7 separate regions of the Homo sapiens genome follow, and regions 1, 2, 3, 4, 5 and 7 are each reported to be linked to region 6. Evidence: microRNA targets listed by miRTarBase, many of them from high-throughput screens and not tested one by one. Region 6 holds a microRNA gene; each other region holds the end of a gene's coding sequence.
What was found. Region 6 holds the annotated microRNA hsa-miR-6788-5p (CUGGGAGAAGAGUGGUGAAGA, at 981-1,001, shown strand). A microRNA usually pairs through its seed, bases 2 to 8, with sites in the 3' UTR of a target mRNA and lowers its output. Matches are read on the target gene's strand: a 7mer-m8 pairs with bases 2 to 8, a 7mer-A1 pairs with bases 2 to 7 and ends in A, and an 8mer does both.

Region 1 (3,094 bases), not on the chromosome of region 6:
TCTAACGTGCTCTTTCTCTCTCTCTCTCTCTCCCCAGAGCACTGCAGTTTCCTCCTGAAGGCTGGCTCCGGCTCTCCCTCAATAATGGCAGCATCACCCACCTGGTGATCCGACCCAACGGCCGAGTTGCGCTCAGGACCCTCGGGGACACGGGGTTCATGCCTCCCGACAAGATCACTCGATCCTGAGGGCTCCGGCCTCTCCTTCCCTCTGTCCTCCCTGCACAGGCCGCACACACTTAACGTTTTGTTCCCAAGGAGACCGGCGGAAAGTAGAAACCTGCAATGCTGCATCTGGGAACTGACTTGTGACCAGGCTGAGAAGGGGAGAGTTGGGATCAGACAGCCTGACTTCTCTGCAGGGTTTTATACCTGACCATGAACCCCCAGGATGGCGTGGGGTTTAAGGTGAAAGCGTCTCACGCACAAGTCAGGCCTGTTGTGGGGACTTGAAAGAGGCCTGACCCAGACCACCATGTTCGCACCCACAGCTGACCCGTGCTGAGGGTCCAGGCTCCATTGGCAAAGCCGGTCAGGCACGAGGGCGACTGAGGCACGTGGATGAGGAGGGCACCCAGGTTCTGTTCACAACTCACTTCACTTCATACATCCTTTTAATTTCTTAAAACCCTCTTGTCCCTTAAATATTTGTCAATTAAAGATTTTCTGGCTGGGCACAGTGGCTCACACCTGTATTCCCAGCTACTCAGGAGGCCAGGGTGGGAGGATCACTTGAGCTCAGGAGTTCAAGACCAGCCTGGACAAGGCAACATAGCGAGACCCTGTCTCTACTAAAAATACAGAACTTAGCTGGGTGTGTCGTGGGCATCTAGAGTCCCAGCTACTTGGGAGGCTGAGGTGGGTGGATCACTTGGGCCCGGGAGCTGGAGGCTGCAGTGAGCTGTGATTGTGTCACTGCACTCCAGCCTGGGCAAGCGAGGGAGACTTAAAGCAATTTTTTCTTTTGAAACGGAGTTTCACTCTTGTTGCCCAGGCTGGAGTGCAGTGGTGCGATCTCGGCTCACCGCAACCTCTGCCTCCTGGGTTCAAGTGATTCTCCTGCCTCAGCTCCCGAGTAGCTGGGATTACAGTCGCCCACCACCATACCTGGCTAATTTTTTGTATTTTTAGTAAAGACAGGGTTTCATGGAGAAACCAATATAGAATTGTTCAGGCTGGTCTCGAACTCCCAACCTCAGGTGATTCACCCACCTTGGCCTCCCAAAGTGCTGGGATTAAAGGTGTGAGCCATCGTGCCTGGCCTAAAAAATTTTTTTTTCTTCATCTGGGTTTTTGCTTTGAAAACAAGTTTCTCCAAATTTACAGATTTCCTGATGATGTTGGGTCTGAACTCACCAACTTGATTAGGTCTTTAGGGGCCGAGGGACTAGCCAGCTGCACAGGTGACTGGATGGGGGAGGGGCAGGTGAGGTGGGTCTACAGAGGTGGCTTCGCCTTTGACCTTCATGCTGGTCTCGGCTGAGGTGACACGCTAGTGACAGCCCAATAGGGGGTTACCCTTATTGAGTAAAATACTTCAGATTGACAGCTCAATCTTAGTTTGCCTCCAGTTAATCTTTTATGCTTAGGGATTAAATGTGTGGTTTTTTTTTTGTTTTTTTTTTTTTGGAGACGGAGTCTCGCTCTGTCACCCAGGCTGGAGTGCAGTGGCGCGATCTCGGCTCACTGCAACCTCTGCCTCCTGGGTTCAAACGATTCTCCTGCCTCAGCCTCCCAAGTAGCTGGGATTATAGGCGCCCACCACCATGCCTGGCTAATTTTTTATTTTTAGTAGAGATGGGGTTTCACCGTGTTGGCCAGGCTGGTCTCGAACTCCTGACCTCGTGATCTACCCACCTCGGCCTCCCCAAGTGCTGGGATTACAGGCGTGAGCTAGCATGCCTGGCCAGGGATTAAAATATTCAAACATGTTGTGTGTACCCAGATATGCTGTTAATTTAGGAAAAACAGTACAATTTCTATGAAGTGGTTGTGACTATTTTCTGTAGTCAATACAGTTGGGATATCTGATCTATTTCTCTGTCTACTTTGGAAATGATTGCATAATAAATAAAATTTTACTGTTTTTTTAAAAGGACTAGTTGTGAGTGTGTTAAAAGCGTGGAACTTCGGCCGGGCGCGGTGGCCACGCCTGTAATCCCAGCACTTCAGGAGGCCCAGGCAGGTGGATCATGAGGTCGGGAGTTCAAGACCAGCCTGACCAACATGCTGAAACCTCGTCTCTACTAAAAATACAAAAATTAGCCAGGTGTGGCAGGCGCCTGTAATCCCAGCTACTCAGGAGGCTGAGGCAGGAGAATCGCTTGAACCCGGAAGGCGGAGCTTGCAGTGAGCCGAGATCGCTCCACTGCACTCCAGCCTGGGCCACAGAGCAAGACACCATCTAATAAGAAAAAAAAAAAAGGAAACTTGTGCAGTGTGAGAAACGATGGTGTCACCAGAACCCTTTGCACAGTGTCCTGTCTCCCCGTGGCTGACGCCTCTGCCCGCATCGCACCGGCTGCCTGCTCAGAGGACTTCCGCCAGTGGCCTGGGCCCTTTCCAAATCCCTGACCAGGACGGCAAGGCTGACCAATGGTTGTGGAGACAACAGCCACAGCAACCATACACCACTGTCTAGAAATAGTTTGATAAGCCAGGGACGCGCCAACTTCAAAAACAAATACCAGGCACGCTCACGTTTGACCTCAGACGGGAGCAAGGCTGGCGAGGAAGCAGTCCGGGATGCTCTAAGTCAGCTACACAGGGCGCCCACGCCACAGCCCCAACGCTGGGCCTCCAGGGATGGGGCAGCGCTGCAGGGCTAAGCCTTTGTTCTGCTTAGGGCCCCGGCTCCTCTGTAAAGTGGGAAAGCTTGGAGGTGGGAGCAGCGCCAGCACGCCTGGCACTGAGGCAATGCTCAGAGCAGGCGCAGGTTTGCTGGGCAGCAAAGCTCATCACAAAGTGGAATGACCACACATCAGCTGGCCCCAATGCCCTGCGCAGCCCACGGCCACTCCCATCGCTCACGTCATAGACGTGAGTCGCACTCATGTGAAGATCTGGACAGACTACCTGGTCTAAAGGGGGAAGTG
Region 2 (3,094 bases), not on the chromosome of region 6:
CCCAGGTCAAAGCGAACACATTTTTATGATACTGCCAAATTGCCATTCCAAAAGATTGTACTACTTTATGTTCATACAAGAAATCATTTTCAGAGTCATCTCATAGATGTCACCTCAGGTAGAGCAGGATGACTCCCATTTTAGGGGGAACATAAATTTGTTTCCGGAATAAGCTTTCTTCCCCTTCTCCCAGGTTCGGTGTATTTTCTTAGCTCACCTAGAAGTGGCATGATTTTAGGATTTGAAGCAGTATCACTTCACTTCTTAATTTGTCTGTTTTGTTTTCTGCTTTTAGACAGATACATTGATAACTCCATTTGTGGGTTTAATAGACCACAACTTCCAGGCCCAGCCGAATCCTGCTGAAGTTAAGGATGTATTCCTGGTGCCTCTGGCCTATTTCCTGCATCCACAGGTCCATGACCAGCATTACGTCACACGTCTTGGTCACCGTTTTATTAATCATATCTTTGAGTACACAAACCCTGAAGACGGTGTCACTTACCAGATCAAGGGAATGACGGCAAACCTTGCAGTGTTGGTGGCCTTTATCATTTTGGAAAAAAAACCCACCTTTGAGGTTCAATTTAATCTTAATGATGTATTAGCATCCTCTGAAGAGTTATTCCTGAAGGTTCATAAAAAAGCTACAAGCAGGTTATGATTTACTAGAGCAAGAGACAAAGAACTATTCACGAGGATTCTGTGTGTGCTTATTCGTAGAACAACAACAATGCCAGCTGTTGGAATTTGACAGGTGTGAATATTTTTTCTGCAGTATGTAGTTAGAATCCTTGCCTCTTTTCCAGTTGCCTTCTATTGTCTGAAAAAGTAAAAGCCATTCAAAAATGAAAACTATGTTCATAGTGTTGCATATTTTCACCCACAATATGTTAATAATATTTTTCTTACACATATAATAAAGAATATCTGGCACATACTAGGCCCTTAATAAAGATTTTTTGAATATATAACCATGTGGCATTTACCTTATTTGCAGTAGGCAATATATATACACATATATAATATACACACACATATACACACACACACACACATATATTTATAATATATATATATAATTTTTTTTTTTTTGGAGAGAGACTCTTGCTCTGTCACCCAGGCTGGAGTGCGGTGGCACAATCTTGGCTCAGCTCACTGCAACCTCCACCTCCTGGGTTAAGCGATTCTCCTGCCTCAGACTCCCAAGTAACTGGGATTACAGGCGCCTGCCACTACACCTGGCTAATTTTTGTATTTTTAGTAGAGATGGGTTTTTGCCATGTTGGCCAGGCTGGTCTCGAACTCCTGACCTCAGGTGATCCACTTGCCTTGGACTCCCAAAGTTCTGGGATTACAGGCATGAGCCACCACACCCAGCTGGCAATATATATATTTTTAATCTGTTGTACATGTAACAGAAACTTCTGGTCATCCATCAAAATCTATCTTCCCTGTCTTCTATGGTGGTAGAGTTTAAGCTGGGTCCCCAGCACTCCAGGTATAAACAGCATTACTCCGGATCCCTTGCAATTCAAGTTGACTCTGGGACTTACTTTAGGCCAATGGGTTATGGGTGAAAGTTGACTTTCCAGGTCATCTCCAATCTAAGACATAAGCCAGTGTTCTTGAGTCCCTTTGGTTCTTTTTTTCCATGAGCTGCAACATGGACTTCTCTGCAACCCAGCCTTGACCATACAAATGAGGACATTCTCTGGGGGAATGGCAGAACCGAAAGATGTCAGAGCTTGAATCGATGAATGACTCTGTGGAGCAAAGTAACCTTCTAACCTGGGCTCTTCACTTGGTACTGTTACATCAGAAAAGAATAAAATTCTGTATCATCCGTCTGCCACTGTAATTCGGAGTCACTTTTCTATAGCAGAGCTAACCAATACGCTCCAGCACCTGAAAATAACTAGAATATTCATCTGAACTTGAAGTGTTGCAAGCAGTTAGAAATGGGGATGATCTGACACTTTATTTATTTTATTTTATTTTTTTGGGACAGAGACTCGCTCCTTCACCCAGGCTGGAGTGCAGTGGCGTGATCTCGGCTCACCGCAACCTTCACCTCCAGGGTTCAAGCGATTCTCCTGCCTCAGCCTCCCAAGTAGCTGGGATTACAGGTGCCCACCACCACGCCCAGCTAATTTTTTTGTATTTTTAGTAGAGATGGGGTTTCACTATGTTGGTCAGGCTGATCTCAAACTCTTGACCTCAGGTAATCTACCCATTTCGGCCTCCCAAAGTGCTGGGATTACAGGCATGAGCCACCGAGCCTGGCCAATCTGACACCTTACATGTGGCTTCTGGGGAACACATAGGATGCCCTCCCTGGGTGGGAGGTGGGGTTCAGCAATCATCCAAAACAGCTGAAATTGAGGAATATAAGAGGCTTATATGCCTACCAATTGGGAGGGATAATGATGTATGTTTCGAGATGATGACGGCAGCAAAATAGTGATTTAAAGCATAAGCCCCAAATCAAAAGACGAAAAGACAGACATTCTGTAATGCACCCTTGAGATCTTCTACTTCTTATGTGGGTATCTGCCTATATCATGCTTTAGAGTTAGCATGGATTTTTTTGTTTAATTATATTCATCATCCTTCATGAGGCCAGAGAGGCAAGTGAGTCAAGCAACCTAACCACAATTCTGTGATGGCGATTTCACATCTTATTGTTGTTATTAGCTTTTTAGAGAGCCAAACCATGTTTAATAAGACTTTGTTATAGTTGAAAATGTGATGCCCACACCAAACCTATCAATCAGCCATGTGACTGTCCATTGCGGCTGAGTTTTTCTTTTCTGAGAGTTGGCAAAGGCAAATACCTGATTGGCTGCTTTATACCCATATATGTTTAAATGGCAGAGATCTGGTTCCAACCATGAAAGCAGATGTTGGGTACGTTACCCCATTAACATTCTGTAACCAGCCCTGCATGAACAGGCCTGAACTATTTCCGAACAATTACAGAAGCATTTGCAAATGTGTATTTACAATCTGACAGCAGTATAATTGCCGGGTAGATGGTTGACCTCTCCGACAGTGCAGAAAGCCTCCCTTCCAAACTGTTTGTTTATGTGAA
Region 3 (3,077 bases), not on the chromosome of region 6:
GCAATACTATTCAGGACACAGGCATGGGCAAAGACTTCATGACTAAAACATCAAAAGCAATGGAAACAAAAGTCAAAATTGACAAATGGGATCTAGTTAAACTAAAGAGCTTCTGCACAGCAAAAGAAACTATCATCAGAGTGAACAGGCAACCTACAGAATGGGAGAAAGTTTTTGCAATCTATCCATCGAACAAAGGGCTAATATACAGAATCTACAAGGAACTTAAAACAAATTTACAAGAAAAAAACAACCCCATCAAAAAGTGGGCGAAGAATATGAATAGACACTTCACAAAAGAAGACATTTGTGGCCAACAAACATACGAAAAAAAGCTCATCATCACTGGTCATTAGAGAAATGCAAATCAAAACCACAATGAGATCACATCTCATGCCAGTTAGAATGGCAATCATTAAAAAGTCAGGAAACAACAGATGTTGGAGAGGATGTGAAGAAATAGGAACGCTTTTACACTGTTGGTGGGAGGGTAAATTAGTTCAACCATTGTGGAAGACGGTGTGGCAATTCCTCAAGGATCTAGAACCAGAAATACCATTTGACTCAGCAATCCCATTACTGGGTATATACCCAAAGGATTACATATCATTCTACCATAAAGACACATGCACACGTATGTTCGTTGCAGCACTGTTCACAATAGCAAAGACTTGGAACCAATACAAATGCTCATCAATGTTAGACTGGATAAAGAAAATGTGGCACATATACACCATGGAATACTATGCAGCCATAAAAAAGGATGAGTTCATGTCCTTTGCAGGGACATGGATGAAGCCGGAAACCATCATTCTCAGTAAACTAACACAGGAACAGAAAACCAAATACTGCATGTTCTCACTCATAAGTAGGAGCTGAACAATGAGAACATATGGGCACAGAAAGGGGAACATCACACACTGGGGCCTGTCGGGGGGGTGGGGGAACAAGGGGAAGGATAAGATAAGGAGAAATACCTAATGTAGATGATGAGTTGATGGGTGCAGCAAACCACCATGGCACACGTATAGCTATGTAACAAACCTGCACGTTCTGTACATGTATCCCAGAACTTAAAGTATAATTTAAAAATAAATAAATAAAAGGTCAGAGCCCACTGAAAAGTAAATATGATCTATTAATTAGCTATTGGGTTATGGTTCCTTAAACCCCGAAAGTCTAAGATGTTAATTAGGCCTGGCCCTGCCTGTGTATGGTTTGTGTCAATGTATATCTAAACACAGTGGAATGGAGTAAAAGTAGCTCTATCTGAGGGAAGAGGACTGAGAATGAGACAGGAGTTGATAAAGGAGAGCAATGTCAATTTCACCAGGCTGACCTGGAAGGCTGCTGAACCCCTGTGTAAAGACCAGTTGTTTTTTTTTTTTTTTCAATAGAAAATACTGAGGGCCGGGTGCAGTGGCTCAGGCCTGTAATCCCAGCACTTTGGGAGGCCGAGGCAGGCAGATCATGAGGTCAGGAGATTGAGACTATCCTGGCTAACACGGTGAAACCCTGTCTCTACTAAAAATACAAAAAATTAGCCAGGCGTGGTGGTGGGCGCCTGTGGTCCCAGCTACTTGGGAGGCTGAGGCAGGAGAATGGTGTGAACCCGGGAGGCAGAAGTTGCAGTGAGCCAATATCGCGCCACTGCACTCCAGCCTGGGCGACAGTGCGAGACTTCGTCTCAAAAAAAAAAAAAAAAGAAAATACTGAGTCTGTATAAAGAGCTTCCTTTCTCTAATAAACACTCAAGGAAAAAAATGGCAAACTTACAATTAGCATTTAACATTGAAATAACCTACCTTTTGTAACATGTTATAAACTTCTAGATGAAGCAGCACAGGAAAAAGGCCCAAGAAACATATAACATGTAACCATGACATCTCTGAGAAATGAGACTAAGATTCTATCCAGAGATAAAATCAACCTAGTAACTTTTCTTTCTTCTAAATCTGTGAAGTAATTTCCTTTACGCTTCTCTTTCAATAAGAAAAGCAAATGGATGGAAAATATTTTGCAGAAAAATATAAAGAGTAAAACTACCCAATACTAGTAAATATAAAATTATACAACCTACCTGAAAGCTCTACTTTTAAATGGGTAAGAACACATATGCAAAATAACTTAAAACAAGATAAAAACAATGTTCTTTTTTAGAAAAGCACAATATATGATGCAGCTTAATAGGCAAAATTTTATATTAAGTATTGCAAATCTTAAACTCTCATCAAATTTTTAAAAATTCCTATAGGTTGTTTTCAGTCATTAAGTAACTAAAGTATCTTCTAAAGTAATTCTCCAATGTTTTGCATTTCAAATATTTTAATAGTTTTATTTCGCAAAGAGAAGCCTAAGAATTTTTTTAAAAACATTTCCAGAGAGAACACTTTATACCATAAAATAAACTTGTATAATTTGGGAGGACAAATCATCTCAAATGTATATTTTTGAATTATGTGCCAATTTTATAATTAGTACAAAAATGACAGCTGAAATATTTTAAAAATGTAAAAACCAGTCCAGGCAACATAACTATACCATCTTGCTGTAAAAGTACTTATATCGAATTCCGCACAAAATATTTTTGCAATATGCTAAATTTAGTTCTTCAAGTCACTCTTCACTGCCGGCTGGCTTTTCCATTTTCTGTTGTCTCCATCCTGAAATAGGAAGAAAAAAACGAGTTGATAAAATAAATATTCATTAACATTTTGTCTCCTTATCTACCTTTCACATGAAAATTAAAATAATATATTCACAGAACAGAACATCAGCATTTTAGGAAAGGACTAACATCAGGGTTCCTCTAGCTAGGCCAATTTCTTCATTTTACAGTGAAAATTGAGGCCTTGAGAGACTAAGTGACTTTCCCAAGGTTACAAGTCAAAGGCCACTGTTTTTTGTTTGTTTGTTTGACTATACCACACTCTCCCTTTCCAAGCAAAACTAAGGAAAAAATCTCTACAATTTCATCAAGAATTTATTTCCTTCCCCACTAAATAAATGTATTTCCACCAACAAATTAAGAGGATTTCTTCTAAAAAAATCAAAATAATCAGATCTGAGATTTATTT
Region 4 (3,094 bases), not on the chromosome of region 6:
GGGATCTCAGGAAGGCGAGGGATGCCCATGTACCACTCAGGCTAGGGAGACTTCTGGGCACAGGGAGGATCCTTGAGAACTGCTCTGTCTGGGTGAGGATGCAGGCTGAGGCCTCTGGGGTCCAGATAGGAAGTGAGCAACGGCTGTGTCCCAGGGGAAGCAGGCTGGGAAGGTGTGGGGTGAGGGCAAGGCTCTTGCCATTCAGATCGCGCTGTGATCCGTGGTGTTTCTCCTGTGCAGGTACTGGTGAGGTTTGTCCAATGGCGGCGGCAGCGGCAGCGGCGGCAGCGGCAGCAGCGGCAGCAGTAGCAGCCCCTCCCACAGCTGTGGGCTCCCTCTCGGGGGCGGAGGGGGTGCCTGTGAGCTCTCAGCCACTTCCCTCCCAACCCTGGTGAGCTCCAAGTTGGTTGCGGGGGAGAGGGGAGAATGGAGTAGAGTCCCTTGGTACAAGCTCCTCTCCCCCCTCTTTTCCCACCAACTCCTATTTCCCTACCAACCAAGGAGCCTCCAGAAGGAAAGGAGGAAGAAATGTTTTCTTAGGGGAATTCGCTAGGTTTTAACGATTTGTTTCTCCTGCTCCTCTTCTGTCAGACCTGACCCCACACAAACCTGTCCCCTCGGTTGTGTTGAAGTCCCCTGGACAGTGGGCAGGGGTGGCAGAGGACACGAGCAGCCACTGCCCGTACCCCCTCTCCTCTCTGTAAGCCCATGCCCTGTCTTCCCAGGGACTTGTGAGCCTCTTCCCTCGACGGTCCTCTTCTCTCCTTCCAGTCCTCTCCCCCTGCTGTCTGCAGCCCCTCCCCGGGGAGTTGGTGCTTTCTTTTCCTTTTTTTTTTTTTTCCAGGGGGAGGGAGGAGAGGAAGGAGGGGGATCAGAGCTGTCCCAAAGAGGGAAAGCGGTGAGGTTTGAGGAGGGGCAGAAGCAGGGCCGGCAAAGGTTGTACCTTCATAAGGTGGTATGGGGGGTTGGGGTCAGGCCCTGAACATCGTCCTACTTGAGAATCTGTCAGGGGAAAAAGTCAAGGGGAGCAGGAGGAAGAGCCAGGAGGGCCAGAGGCAGAGAAGAGATGGAGTCTTAGGGGCCAGGGTGAGCGAGGGGTCCAGGGCCTAGAGGTGCTTCCTGGGGGCGGGGGAATGCAGCCAGTGTCCCCCTCCCCTCTTCCACCCCAGCTCCAGCCCTGGTCTTGTCTTTTCATCCCTCTTCCCCACGACAGAAGAAGTTGTGGCCCTGGCCATGTCATCGTGTTCCTGTGTCCCCTGCATGTACCCCACCCTCCACCCCTTCCTTTTGCGCGGACCCCATTACAATAAATTTTAAATAAAATCCTGTTTCTGGCTCTGGATTGAATGAATTGCCCTCACTAAGAACTGCCGCCAACCCCAAGGGTTTCTTCTCGGCCTGGTGTCCGTCAATCCAGCCTTGCTCTGCCCTGTGAGGCTGTGAGGTTCTGGCTCCGCCCTCCCCAGGGGCAGCCTTACTGGCGGCAGCACAGATACAGGGCGGGGCCAAGGCTGTGGCTGTGGAGAGCAAGTTCCAGGTCTCTGGGGAATTCCCAACTCGGACAGGCCCAGAATAGCCCCTGGAGGTTTGAAGAGGCCCCGTCAGAAACCCAAACAGAGCTGCCAGACGGGAATGCCGCCCTCCCCCGTCCACACTCATGGCCGCTGCTCAGCCCCCAGCCGCATCCCTCCCCACGCGCGTCACGGCCCTGAGGCCATGGTGGGTGGATGCGGCTGCGGAAAGGCTGGGGAGTCCGAGCCCTAGGACTGGGAGCAGCGAGGTAGAGAATGAAAGCTGCACCTGTCCCTCATCCTGGGCATGGGCCACTCTGTGTTTACACGGGCTCCTCTGCCCAGCTCCTCCTGCCCCTTGGAATTCCCTTTCCTGTCCCCGCTCCGTCCTTTCCAGGGCCCCTTTTTTGAGCCTTCCAGCGCCAGTTTCTGCCGCTCCTTTCTGCAGGCTCCATTCTCTCCAAACCCCACCCTGCTCCTCCTCTGCAGCCTCCCCGCGTCTTGCCCCATCTTCCTTGCCCTCCTGCTCGTAGAGACGCCTCCACCCGGTCCTGCCTGTCTCACTGGTCCCGTCTCCTCGCAGAACCCTCTCCGTTTCCCCCAAATCCCCGTCTCTTCCAGGAATCCCGGTGACCGTTGGCGGGAGGGGCCGGGGACTTAAGAAGGAGGCGTCTCTCCTGGAGGCGCGCGTGAGAAGGGGCAGGGAGGGGGCGCGAGTGGTCCCCGGGCCGGTTGCCTGGGTAACGCGTGGCTCCCTTGGGCTGGCGGGAGGGGCCGGAGGCTCGCGAGGGGCGGGGGCGGCGACGGCGGCGGAGCGTAGGGGAGGGGACCGGAGAGGAGGGGATGAGCACACGGGAGAGGAGAAGAGGGAGACCCGCCGCCTCCCTCCCTCCCTAGCTGACTTGCTCCCTCCCGGGCTGCGGCTGCTGCAAAAGCCAGCAGCGGCAGCGGGAGCTGTCCGGAGGCCGGCGTCGAGGTGAGACCCGGGCAGACTGAGGCTGCGGGTAGGAGTGGACCGACCGACGGCTGACGCCGGGCGGACTGCACGGGAATGCGGGTGTCTGGAGGGCTGGTGGTGGTGCTGGGCGGGCTGAACCATCGGGAGGAGGCGCCAGCCCACCGAAGGCGAGGGAAGCCCCGGGAGAGGGGCTGACAGGGGATCGAAGGAGATAACCAGGTCCCCCAGAAAGGGGCGGGAGCGTCCTCGCCCTAAACGCGCAGCAAGAAAACCCGCACCGCCTGGGAGCCCAGGGAGGAGGGGAGGATGCAGAGGGAGTGGAATGCGAATGTCGGGTCCTCTGCCCAGTCGGCCTGTCGGAGTGCTATTTGCACAGCTCGTTGATTTTGGGGTGCTGGGATCTGAGAGTCTGGATCTTGTTGGATGGACCCAGGGAGAGACCCTGGAGAAGGTCCTGTTTACAAAAGGGTTAATCTTCCCCAGGGCTCTCCAAGCAGAAGACTTTGAGTAGAGCACTCCTCCCGCAGGGATGTCCCACCCTAAGGCAAAGGAAACCCCAACTTTTCTTCCTCTCCCTAGAGGCAGTGCAAGGCTGGCCCTGAGACAGGAATGTGGCCCAATTGGG
Region 5 (3,094 bases), not on the chromosome of region 6:
AGCAAAACATGTTCAGGAATTTTATAAACTTGATGAGGACATTATCCCAGAACTTAGATTTTATCGACATTATGCAAAGCTTAACTTTGTCATAGATGATAGTTGCATAAACTTCGTCAGTCTCGGCTGTTTGTTTATTCAGCATGGTCTTCACAGTAATATTCCTTGTCTCTCAAAGCTATTATATATTGCTTTGTCTTGGCCAATTACTTCAGCAAGTACTGAGAACTCATTTTCTACCCTGCCTCGTCTTAAGACATATTTATGTAATACCATGGGACAAGAGAAGCTTACTGGCCCAGCCCTAATGGCTGTTGAGCAGGAGTTGGTAAATAAACTAATGGAGCCTGAAAGACTCAATGAAATTGTGGAAAAGTTTATCAGTCAGATGAAAGAAATATAATACATGCTCATTTGAACTTACCTAAAAGACTTGTATTTCCATTGGGATGTTTTCATTTCAAAATTGTTCAAAATTCAAAAGACACAGAACGATAAACAGTGAAGTCTCCTTCCCTCCTTTAGAACTCATTTTCTCTTCCCAAAAAGTGTTATCTTTTCCTTAAATATCCCTCTAGAGGTATTTTTCCTAAGTGGTATTGTACGGTGTATACTGTTCTTCAGCTTGTCTTCTCTGTGTAACATATTTTTGAGATTGTCCCATGTCGTTACATGAAGAGTTTCTTGATTCTTGGTCTATAATTGCAGATGTTATTGTATGAATGTACCATAATATATTTGAGCAGTCCCTGCTGACATTTTTTTCCTAACCTTTTGCTATTATAAATAATGATTCATTTTATAACCTTTTATATAGGTCACATTGCACATGAGTGAGTTTACTGTAAGCTGGAAATCTAAAGTTAGAATTACTAGGTTAAGATATGTGCATTTTTACTTTTGATAGATATTGGCAAGTTGCCATCTATAAGGATTGTGCCAGTTTACAGTCCCACCCACAATGCATGAGAGTGCCTATTAAATCTTTGTAAGTGTTATCAAATGTTTTGATCTTTCCTAATCTCTTACTTTAAAAATGGCGTTTTAATCTCAGTAGAATTTTGTATATTCACTTAAGAATAAGGTTGGGGACTGGGCGTGGTGGTTCACACCTATAATCTCAGCCCTTTGAGGGCCTACACAGGAAGGAAGATCGCTTGAGGCCACGAGTTCAAGATGAGGTTGGCAACATAGTAAGACCTCATCACTACAATTTTTTTTTTTTTAAATTAGTGAAGTGTGGTACTGCACACCCGAAGTCCCAGCTACTTGGGAGGCTGAGGCAGGAGGATTGCTTAAGCCCAGAAATTTGAGGCTGCAGTGAGCCATGATTGCACCACTATGCTCCAGAGTCTAGGCAACAGAGTGAGACCTTATCTCTTTAAAACAAACAAGAATGAAGTTAGGTATCTGTTTATTTGTTTGAGCCATTTGTATTTCCTTTTTTGTAGACTGTCCTGTTTAAACGTTAAAATCACTGCTGTGGTTTTGATTTATACATCTCAGCTGGATGGCACAATAAATTATTAAGCCATGTTATGAAAATATAACTATATTTAAGTAACCTGCAAAGAAAAGACTATTTCTTTATACTTCAAAAAAGTTTTGTTTTTGTTTTGAGATGGAGTTTTGCTCTTGTTGCCCAGACTGGAGTGCAATGGTATGATCTCGGCTCACTGCAACCTCCGCCTCCCAGGTTCAAGTGATTGTCCTGCCTCAGCCTCCCAAGTAGCTGGGATGACAGGCGCACGCCACCACGCCTGGCTAATTTTTGTATTTTTAGTAGAGATGGGGTTTCACCATGTTAGCCAGGCTGGTCTTGAACTCCTGACGTCAGGTAATACGCCCACCTGGGCCTCCCAAAGTGCTGGGATTATGGCATAAGCCACCACGCCCAGCCAGAAAAGTTTAAATAACAAAGAAAATGTGATATTCAAAGATTTGAAAGAATTAAGTGGTATATATATCTAGGCCTGGAATTTTTTTTTTTTTTTTTTTTTTTTTTGAGACGGAGTCTCGCTCTGTCGCCCAGGCGGGAGTGCTGTGGCGCGATCTCCGCTCACTGCAAGCTCCGCCTTCCGGGTTCACGCCATTCTCCTGCCTCAGCCTCCCGAGTAGCTGGGACTACAGGCGCCCGCCACTGTGCCCGGCTAATTTTTTGTATTTTTAGTAGAGACGGGGTTTCACCGTGGTCTCGATCTCCTGACCTCGTGATCCGCCCGCCTCGGCCTCCCAAAGTGCTGGGATTACAGGCGTGAGCCACCGCGCCCGGCCTTTTTTTTTTTTTTAAAGACTATTTCTCTGGCACTTTTCTCCAGCTGTTTCTCCCTTACCCTCTCATCAATTTTGATAACTTGTACTTTTTCTAGGAGAACATCTATTTCATTGAGGCTTTCTTTCAAATGCATTTGCCTAGAGTTGTAGAAAATATTCTCAGTATCTTCTATATACCTGTTTTACTTTCTTTCTTTCATTTTTTAAGACGGAGTCTCGCTCTGTTGCCCAGGCTGGAGTGTACGGTGGCGTGATATTGGCTCACTGCAACCTCCACCTCGCGGGTTCAAGTGATTCTCCTGCCTCAGCTTCCCAAGTATATGGGATTACAGGTGCCCACCACCACGCCTGGCTCATTTTTTTGTATTTTTAGTAGAGATGGGGTTTCACCATGTTGGCCAGGCTGGTCTCGAACTCCTGACCTCAGGTGATCCACCCACCTTGGCCTCCCAAAGTGCTGGGATTACAGGCATAAGCCACCATGCCCGGCCCTAATTTATTGATTTCCACCTTAAAAAAGAGAAAACAGGCCTGGCGCAGTGGCTCACACTTGTAATCACAGTACTTTGGGAGGCCGAGGCGGGCAGATCACTTGAGGTCGGGAGTTCAAGACCAGCCTGACTAACATGGAGAAACCCCGTCTCTACTAAAACTATAAAATTAGCCGGGCGTGGTGGCACATGCCTGTAATACCAGCTACTCGGGAGGCTGAGACGGGAGAATAGCTTGAACCCCAAAGGCTGTGGTTGCAGTGAGCTGAGATCGTGCAATTGCACTCTAGTCTGGGCAACAAGAGAGAAACTCCGTTTCAAAAAAGAGA
Region 6 (3,000 bases):
GAATAAAGTATTAATCTTCTGCCTGGGCACGGTGGCTCACGCCTGTAATCCCAGCACTTTGGGAGGCCAAGGCAGGCAGATCTTCTGAGGTCAGGACTTTGAGACCAGCCTGGGCAACATGGTGGAACCCCATCTCTTCTAAAAATACAAAAATTATCCAGGCGTGGTGGTGCACGCCTGTAATCACAGCTACTTGAGAGGCTGAGGCAGGAGAATTGCCTGAACCCAGGAGGCAGAGGTTGCAGTGAGCCAAGTTTGCACCACTGCACTCTAGCCTGGGTGACAGGGCAAGATTCCATCTCAAAATAAATAAATAATAAAGTATTAATCTTCTTTCTTTTTGTGCATTCTGAAACCATAAGCTGCAGCCAAAATGAACTGTTTTAACCTAAAACGATTGTGATAGTGCCTGTGCCTTCATAGAATGAAGTAGGAATGGTGATGTTTCATGAGGAGATCAAAATGGCTGTTCTCTTTATTGTCTGAAGTGGTTATGATAACAGCTACTTAGTCAGTTTTTCCCTGGGAGTAATCTGTACAGTATTTCTGTCTTCACGCTGAGACACTCAAAAGAGCAAGCATTTGTGAATCTGTGCAGACAGACTTGCCCTGAGGGACATGGGTCTCCGCCATCTACACAGACCTGACACCTATCACCAGTCCCCTTTCCCATATGCCTGATTTTTTTTTTTTGCCTCTTTTCATCTTTACACAGACCTGTTTCCTAATGTCAGTTAACGTCATTGGCCAGCGAATGGATTTCTATGCCATGATCCACGCCTGCTGGCTGATCGCTGTCTTATATAGACGCAGAAGGAAAGCCATCGCAGAGATCTGGCCCAAGTACTGCTGCTTCCTGGCATGCATCATCACCTTCCAGTATTTCATCTGCATTGGCATCCCACCTGCTCCTTGCCGAGGTGAGCCTGCCCTTCCCTTGAGCCGTCTACTTTTAGAAGAAGCCATTACTGAGCGGACGGCTGGGAGAAGAGTGGTGAAGAAGAGTATTGATTGTGCTGTTCGCCACTTCCCTCCCTGCAGATTACCCGTGGAGATTCAAGGGTGCCAGCTTCAATGACAACATCATAAAGTGGCTGTACTTCCCAGATTTCATTGTGCGGCCCAACCCTGTGTTTCTCGTCTGTAAGTGTTTCCACTGCAGGGCCACAGAGTGCTGGTATCCGGGTTTACTGTTAATCATTGTTCACGTGCTATGCATTAGTGCCTTTTGTCTTCCACTAGACTTCGTAATCATGTAAAGGCTTGTCTTATGCATTAATATCACAAGTCATTAATGGCTTCTACTCACCCTATTACATTTGCAAAATTAATAAATCAGTGTTGGAAATGCCATATTCACTTGCATAATTTCACTTCCCCCAACACACACACACAAACACACACACACACACACACACACATTTACACAGCCACCTTTCAAAAGACAGACCAGAGAGGAAGGCTTTTGTGTTTTCTGACTTGGTGGTTTCTGGCTCCCAGTGCAGATAAATAAACCCTGAACATGGGACAGTGGATGCTGGGAGATGCTTCCCAGATTTTAGTTGCTCTAGAATTGGGCTGCAGCCCCAAGGCCTTCCCATGGCAGCTGGTGATCCAAAGGTCAGAGCAGCTCCTCCAAGACCAGAGTGCTGGGTTTTACAGAAAATGCAAATGACTGCCCTGCCTAAACAAGTTTAGGTTTAATTTTAAAAGCAAGGAAGCAGCTTGTGTTCAGGCTTCCAGGCAGGCTTGGCCTCAGCCCTTTGTGGGCAGTTGCTGGGAGGACAGCTCTCTCAGGCTGCGCTGTGCTGTCCAGCACAGTCCACCACCTCCACCTGCTCTCACCACACTTGCAGTGTGGCTTCTGCTTTGGGGACAGTCTTTGGTTACAAATGCAAAGGAGGATGGAAAGGATAAAGAAAAATGAATGTCTGCATCCACCACACATAAAAAGATAAAGATGGGGAAATTGCTCAAGTGGCCTCCTTAAAACTGGTGGGAGGTAAAAAAAATTAGCCAGGCATGGTGGCGGGCACTTGTATTCCCAGCTACTTGGGAGGCTGAGGCAGGAGAATGGTGTGAACCCAGGAGGTGGGGCTTGCAGTGAGCCAAGATCGCACCACTGCACTCCAGCCTGGGCGACAGAGCGAGACTCTGTCTCACACACACACACACAAAAATGTTACCCTCTAAGAGACTCATGAAGACTAGTAAGTAGCACCTAATATTTCTCTCACCGATGTGCAAACAAAATTCAGAGACTCCCCACGTAAGCTCCTGGAGTGTCTGTGGTCACTCTATGCCCTGCAAGGTGGAGAAGGTGTGACTTGGCCCCGACATTGGACTCCAGGATGAATTTTACTATGAACTTTGGGAACACAACTCACTTAGGAGCTGGGGAATGGCTGTTGCTGTGTGATGACTGTGTGTTGCATTATGTAAATCAGAAGAGGATGAGGCGGCTTAATGATCTCACCTCTGTCTTGTTAGATGACTTCATGCTGCTTCTGTGTGCCTCCTTACAACGGCAGATTTTTGAGGATGAGAACAAGGCTGCAGTGCGAATCATGGCAGGTGACAATGTCGAGATCTGCATGAACCTTGATGCGGCCTCCTTCAGCCAACATAACCCTGTGCCAGATTTTATTCACTGCAGGTAACAAGAGCTTCACATTTGCTAAAAGCCACTTTGATGTGTGCATTTCCATTACATTGCTCCTCTATACTTTCTCTGCTATACTTGGGAAACAGATCTGCTGAATTGTATACACTGAAGTTAATAAATGCTGGACAATGTGGTTCAGCAGCCTGGAGGCTGAGCCTCTGAATTATAGCACTGCACCTGCTTTTGTCAATGTAAACCGCCTCTTTATGGCCTCAGTTCTCCTCCTCTTCTTCATACCAAAACTGACTTGTGCCAGTAATACCAGCTCTCCAGTGGAGGGTCCTCCTGCTCATCTCTTATCCCTCCTCTGCATCCCCATAGCTCATCCTCATCTT
Region 7 (3,091 bases), not on the chromosome of region 6:
TGCCTCTGTCTGACTCCCAGATTCAGTGGTTCTACCAGGCCCTGAACCTCTCCCTGCCCCTCCCCAATTTCCATGCTGGGACGGAGCCTGATGGCCTGGACCCCATGGTCACACTGTCCCTGAACCTGGGCTTGTCTTTTGCTGAGCTGCGCCGCATGTACTTGTTCCTCAATAGTTCAGGACTTTTGGTTCTTCCCCAGGCTGGACTCTTGACACCTCACCCTTCCTGAATTCCACAGTGCAAATATCTTTCTGTAACACCCTCAGCATCCTGCACTGCCCTCTCTGAAAACACCCACATTCTTTGGTCACTGTGATTTCTTAGGCCTCCGTCTGTTGTACCACTAGCATCTATATGACTTTTGTGTAATTTTCTCTCTTGAACTCTGGTGCTGTTTTTTTGTTTGTTTGAGACAAAGTCTCGCTCTGTCACCCAGGGTGGAGTGCAGTGGCATGATCTCTGCTCACTACAACCTCCACCTCCCGGGTTCCAGCGATTCTCCTGCCTCAGCCTCCCGAGTAGCTGGGACTACAGGCGTGCACCACCACGCCTGGCTAATTTTTTGTATTTTTAGTAGAGACGGGGTTTCACCATGTTGGTCAGGCTGGTCTCGAACTCCTGACCTCGTAATCTGCCCTCCTCGACCTCCCAAAGTGCCGGGATTACAGGTGTGAGCCACTGTGCCTGTCTGAGCTCTGGTGCTGTTCTTCCCCCTAGAAAAGAATCTCTAGTGTGGATTCTGCCCAGACAGGCTGACCTGAGAAAGGCACAGTGGTTCCTCCATTCCTTCCCCATCATCTGAGTGTTCCAGTATCCCCCATCCCTCTCAATCCAGTCACCTGCCTATTGACATCTAGCTCTGTTTCCCCTGTCTTGTCCATGTCTCTAAGACCCAGTACCAGACTGAACTAGCAGCAAGAAGGACGAGGAGGCCGGGCATGGTGGCTCACGCCGGTAATCCCAGCACTTTGGGAGGCCGAGGTGGGCGGATCACTTGAGATTGGGAGTTTGAGACCAGCCTGGCCAACATGGTAAAACCCGCTCTCTATTAAAAATAGAAAAATCAGCTGGGTGTGGTGGCACACCTCTGTAATCCCAGCTACTCAGGAGGCTGAGACAGGAGAATCACTTGAACCCGGGAGGCAGAGGTTGCAGTGAGCCGAGATCGCGCCACTGCACTCCAGCCTGGGTGACACAGTGAGACTCCGTCTCCAAAAAAAAGGATGAGGAATAGAATTCTGTGCAGATGTCCTGACTTGGCAATTTTGTGTCCCTGCCTCACTGTCTCCACCAACCCCCGCCTGTCCTAGTGTTGTTCTGCCTCCTGTCCTCTCTTGCTCTCTTGTCAGTCTCTGGCTTCCTCGGCCCCATTTCACTTCACTGAGTCCTGACACCCATCTCCCTAGGGGCCTGTGAGAGGAGAGGGAAGGGTCTGTTCTGCTCAGCTCCATGTCCCCCATTTTCCTCCACAATAAACTGGGACTGGGCTAAAACTGTGTCACATTGTTTGTGGGGTCAGGCTCAGGTGTGGGCAGGTAAACACAGATTAAAGAGGGTTAATGCCTGGCGCAGTGGCTCACGCCTGTAATCCCAGCACTTTGGGAGGCTGAGGCAGGCGGATCACCTGAGATTGGGAGTTTGAGACCAGCCTGACTAATATGGAGAAACCCCATCGCTACTAAAAATACAAAATTAGCCGGGCTTGGTAGCGCATACCTGTAATTACAGCTACTCGGGAGGCTGAGGCCGGAGAATCACTTGAACCTGGAAGGTGGAGGTGGCGATGAGCCGAGATTGCACCATTGCACTCCAGCCTGGGCAACAAGAGTGAAACTGTGTCTCAAAAAAAAAAAAAAAAAAAAGGGTTAGTGAGGTTTGGGATCCAAATAGGATTGCAGAGCCCTCTCCATTGCACTTGGCGTTTGTCGCTTCCTCTCGGCCTCCTGTAAAGGGCACACATCCCTCCCCACCCTCTGCTTAGCTGGAGATCAAAGCATGGGGACTGTGATTCTTCCCAGCCTTAAACATACCCTACAAAACCTGGAAAGTTAGACCCTGATGATGCCAGGTCTTTTCACCTAAGAAAAGAAACTTTAGGCCAGGTGCGGTGGCTCATGCTTGTAATCCCTGAACTTTGGGAGGCCGAGGTGGGTGGATCACCTGAGGTCGGGTTTGAGACCAGCCTGACCAACATGGTGAAATCTTGTCTCTACTAAATATGAAAAATTAGCTGGGCATGGTGGCTCATGCTTGTAATCCCAGCTACTTGGGAGGCTGAGGCAGGAGAATTGCTTGAACCGGGGAGGTGTAGGTTGCAGTGAGCTGAGATCACGCCATTGCACTCCAGACAGGGCAACAAGAGCGAAACTCTGTCTTAAAAAAAAAAAAAAAAGCCTGGGCGCGGTGGCTTGCCTGTAATCCCAGCACTTTGGGAGGCCGAAGCAGGCGGATCATGAGGTCAGGAGTTCGACACCAGCCTGACCAACATGGTGAAAGCCCATCTCTACTAAAAAAAAAAAAAAAAAAATTAGTTGGGCATGGTGGCACGTGTCTGTGATCCCAGCTACTCAGGAGGCTGAGGCAGGAGAATCGCTTGAACCTGGGAGGCAGAGTTTGCAGTGAGCCGAGATCGTGCCACTGTACTCCAGCCTGGGTGACAGACCGAGACTGTCTCCAAAAAAAAAAAAAAAGAAACTTTCTCTTTAAACCAGAAAGACTCAGGAACTCAGAGCCACATGCCAGAGTTACCTGCTGCTGGGGCCCTGGACTCCTGCCATTCCTTAGTTCTTTTCAAGGATTCTGGCATCCAGGATGCCCTCTCGAGGGGCCCAATTTGAGGGGCAAAGTGCTGAGAGCACTGATGTTGGGCTGCAGTGGTTGGATCTTCATGCTAATATTTTAATTTTGAAATAGTGCAAACGTATAGAAAGCAAGGATGGATACAACAGCCTTTTCCATACACTGGATAAACATGCTGGACATAACGCTGCTCTGAGTCAGGCTTGGTATTGAGCAGCAGGACTCCCAGATGAGTATAGCCAGGTGTCTGCCCTTCCAAGTCTTGCAGCCCAGTGCTTGGGTTATGAAACC

Region 1: the mRNA of PGAM5 is a reported target of hsa-miR-6788-5p. Seed matches in the 3' UTR shown: 7mer-A1 at 1,186-1,192, 7mer-A1 at 1,218-1,224 and 7mer-A1 at 1,731-1,737.
Region 2: the mRNA of NUDT7 is a reported target of hsa-miR-6788-5p. The part of its 3' UTR that is shown has no 7-base or 8-base seed match.
Region 3: miRTarBase lists INTS13 as a target of hsa-miR-6788-5p. Seed matches in the 3' UTR shown: 7mer-A1 at 2,419-2,425.
Region 4: miRTarBase lists MAZ as a target of hsa-miR-6788-5p. The part of its 3' UTR that is shown has no 7-base or 8-base seed match.
Region 5: the mRNA of ZMYM1 is a reported target of hsa-miR-6788-5p. The part of its 3' UTR that is shown has no 7-base or 8-base seed match.
Region 7: miRTarBase lists LY6G5B as a target of hsa-miR-6788-5p. Seed matches in the 3' UTR shown: 7mer-A1 at 647-653.

Annotation. Positions count from the first base shown.
Region 1 is chr12:132,720,641-132,723,734 of GRCh38, forward strand. It overlaps PGAM5 (PGAM family member 5, mitochondrial serine/threonine protein phosphatase), which reads left to right. Exons shown (of 6, transcript NM_001170543.2): 6 at 38-2,094. The coding sequence ends at 188. Among named protein-coding and RNA genes, the nearest start is that of PGAM5, 11 kb to the left of the region's middle.
Region 2 is chr16:77,741,287-77,744,380 of GRCh38, forward strand. It overlaps NUDT7 (nudix hydrolase 7), which reads left to right. Exons shown (of 4, transcript NM_001105663.3): 4 at 296-974. The coding sequence ends at 664. It overlaps LOC107984878 (a long non-coding RNA gene), which reads right to left. Exons shown (of 6, transcript XR_002957866.2): 6 at 1,584-1,714. Among named protein-coding and RNA genes, the nearest start is that of NUDT7, 20 kb to the left of the region's middle.
Region 3 is chr12:26,902,874-26,905,950 of GRCh38, forward strand. It overlaps INTS13 (integrator complex subunit 13), which reads right to left. Exons shown (of 17, transcript NM_018164.3): 17 at 2,308-2,663. The coding sequence ends at 2,624. Among named protein-coding and RNA genes, the nearest start is that of INTS13, 34 kb to the right of the region's middle.
Region 4 is chr16:29,809,837-29,812,930 of GRCh38, forward strand. MAZ (MYC associated zinc finger protein) reads left to right here. Exons shown (of 5, transcript NM_002383.4): 5 at 241-1,328. The coding sequence ends at 395. PRRT2 (proline rich transmembrane protein 2) reads left to right here and starts at 2,357. Exons shown (of 4, transcript NM_145239.3): 1 at 2,357-2,487. It overlaps MVP-DT (MVP divergent transcript), which reads right to left. Exons shown (of 4, transcript NR_186424.1): 3 at 199-337. RefSeq lists silencers at 1,730-1,809, 2,210-2,359.
Region 5 is chr1:35,114,857-35,117,950 of GRCh38, forward strand. ZMYM1 (zinc finger MYM-type containing 1) reads left to right here. Exons shown (of 10, transcript NM_024772.5): 10 at 1-1,003. The coding sequence ends at 403. Among named protein-coding and RNA genes, the nearest start is that of ZMYM1, 37 kb to the left of the region's middle.
Region 6 is chr18:10,757,625-10,760,624 of GRCh38, reverse strand. MIR6788 (microRNA 6788) reads left to right here and starts at 976; the gene lies at 976-1,041. It overlaps PIEZO2 (piezo type mechanosensitive ion channel component 2), which reads left to right. Exons shown (of 56, transcript NM_001378183.1): 25 at 716-920; 26 at 1,042-1,143; 27 at 2,491-2,656.
Region 7 is chr6:31,672,053-31,675,143 of GRCh38, forward strand. LY6G5B (lymphocyte antigen 6 family member G5B) reads left to right here. Exons shown (of 3, transcript NM_021221.3): 3 at 1-1,494. The coding sequence ends at 230. Among named protein-coding and RNA genes, the nearest start is that of LY6G5B, 3.6 kb to the left of the region's middle.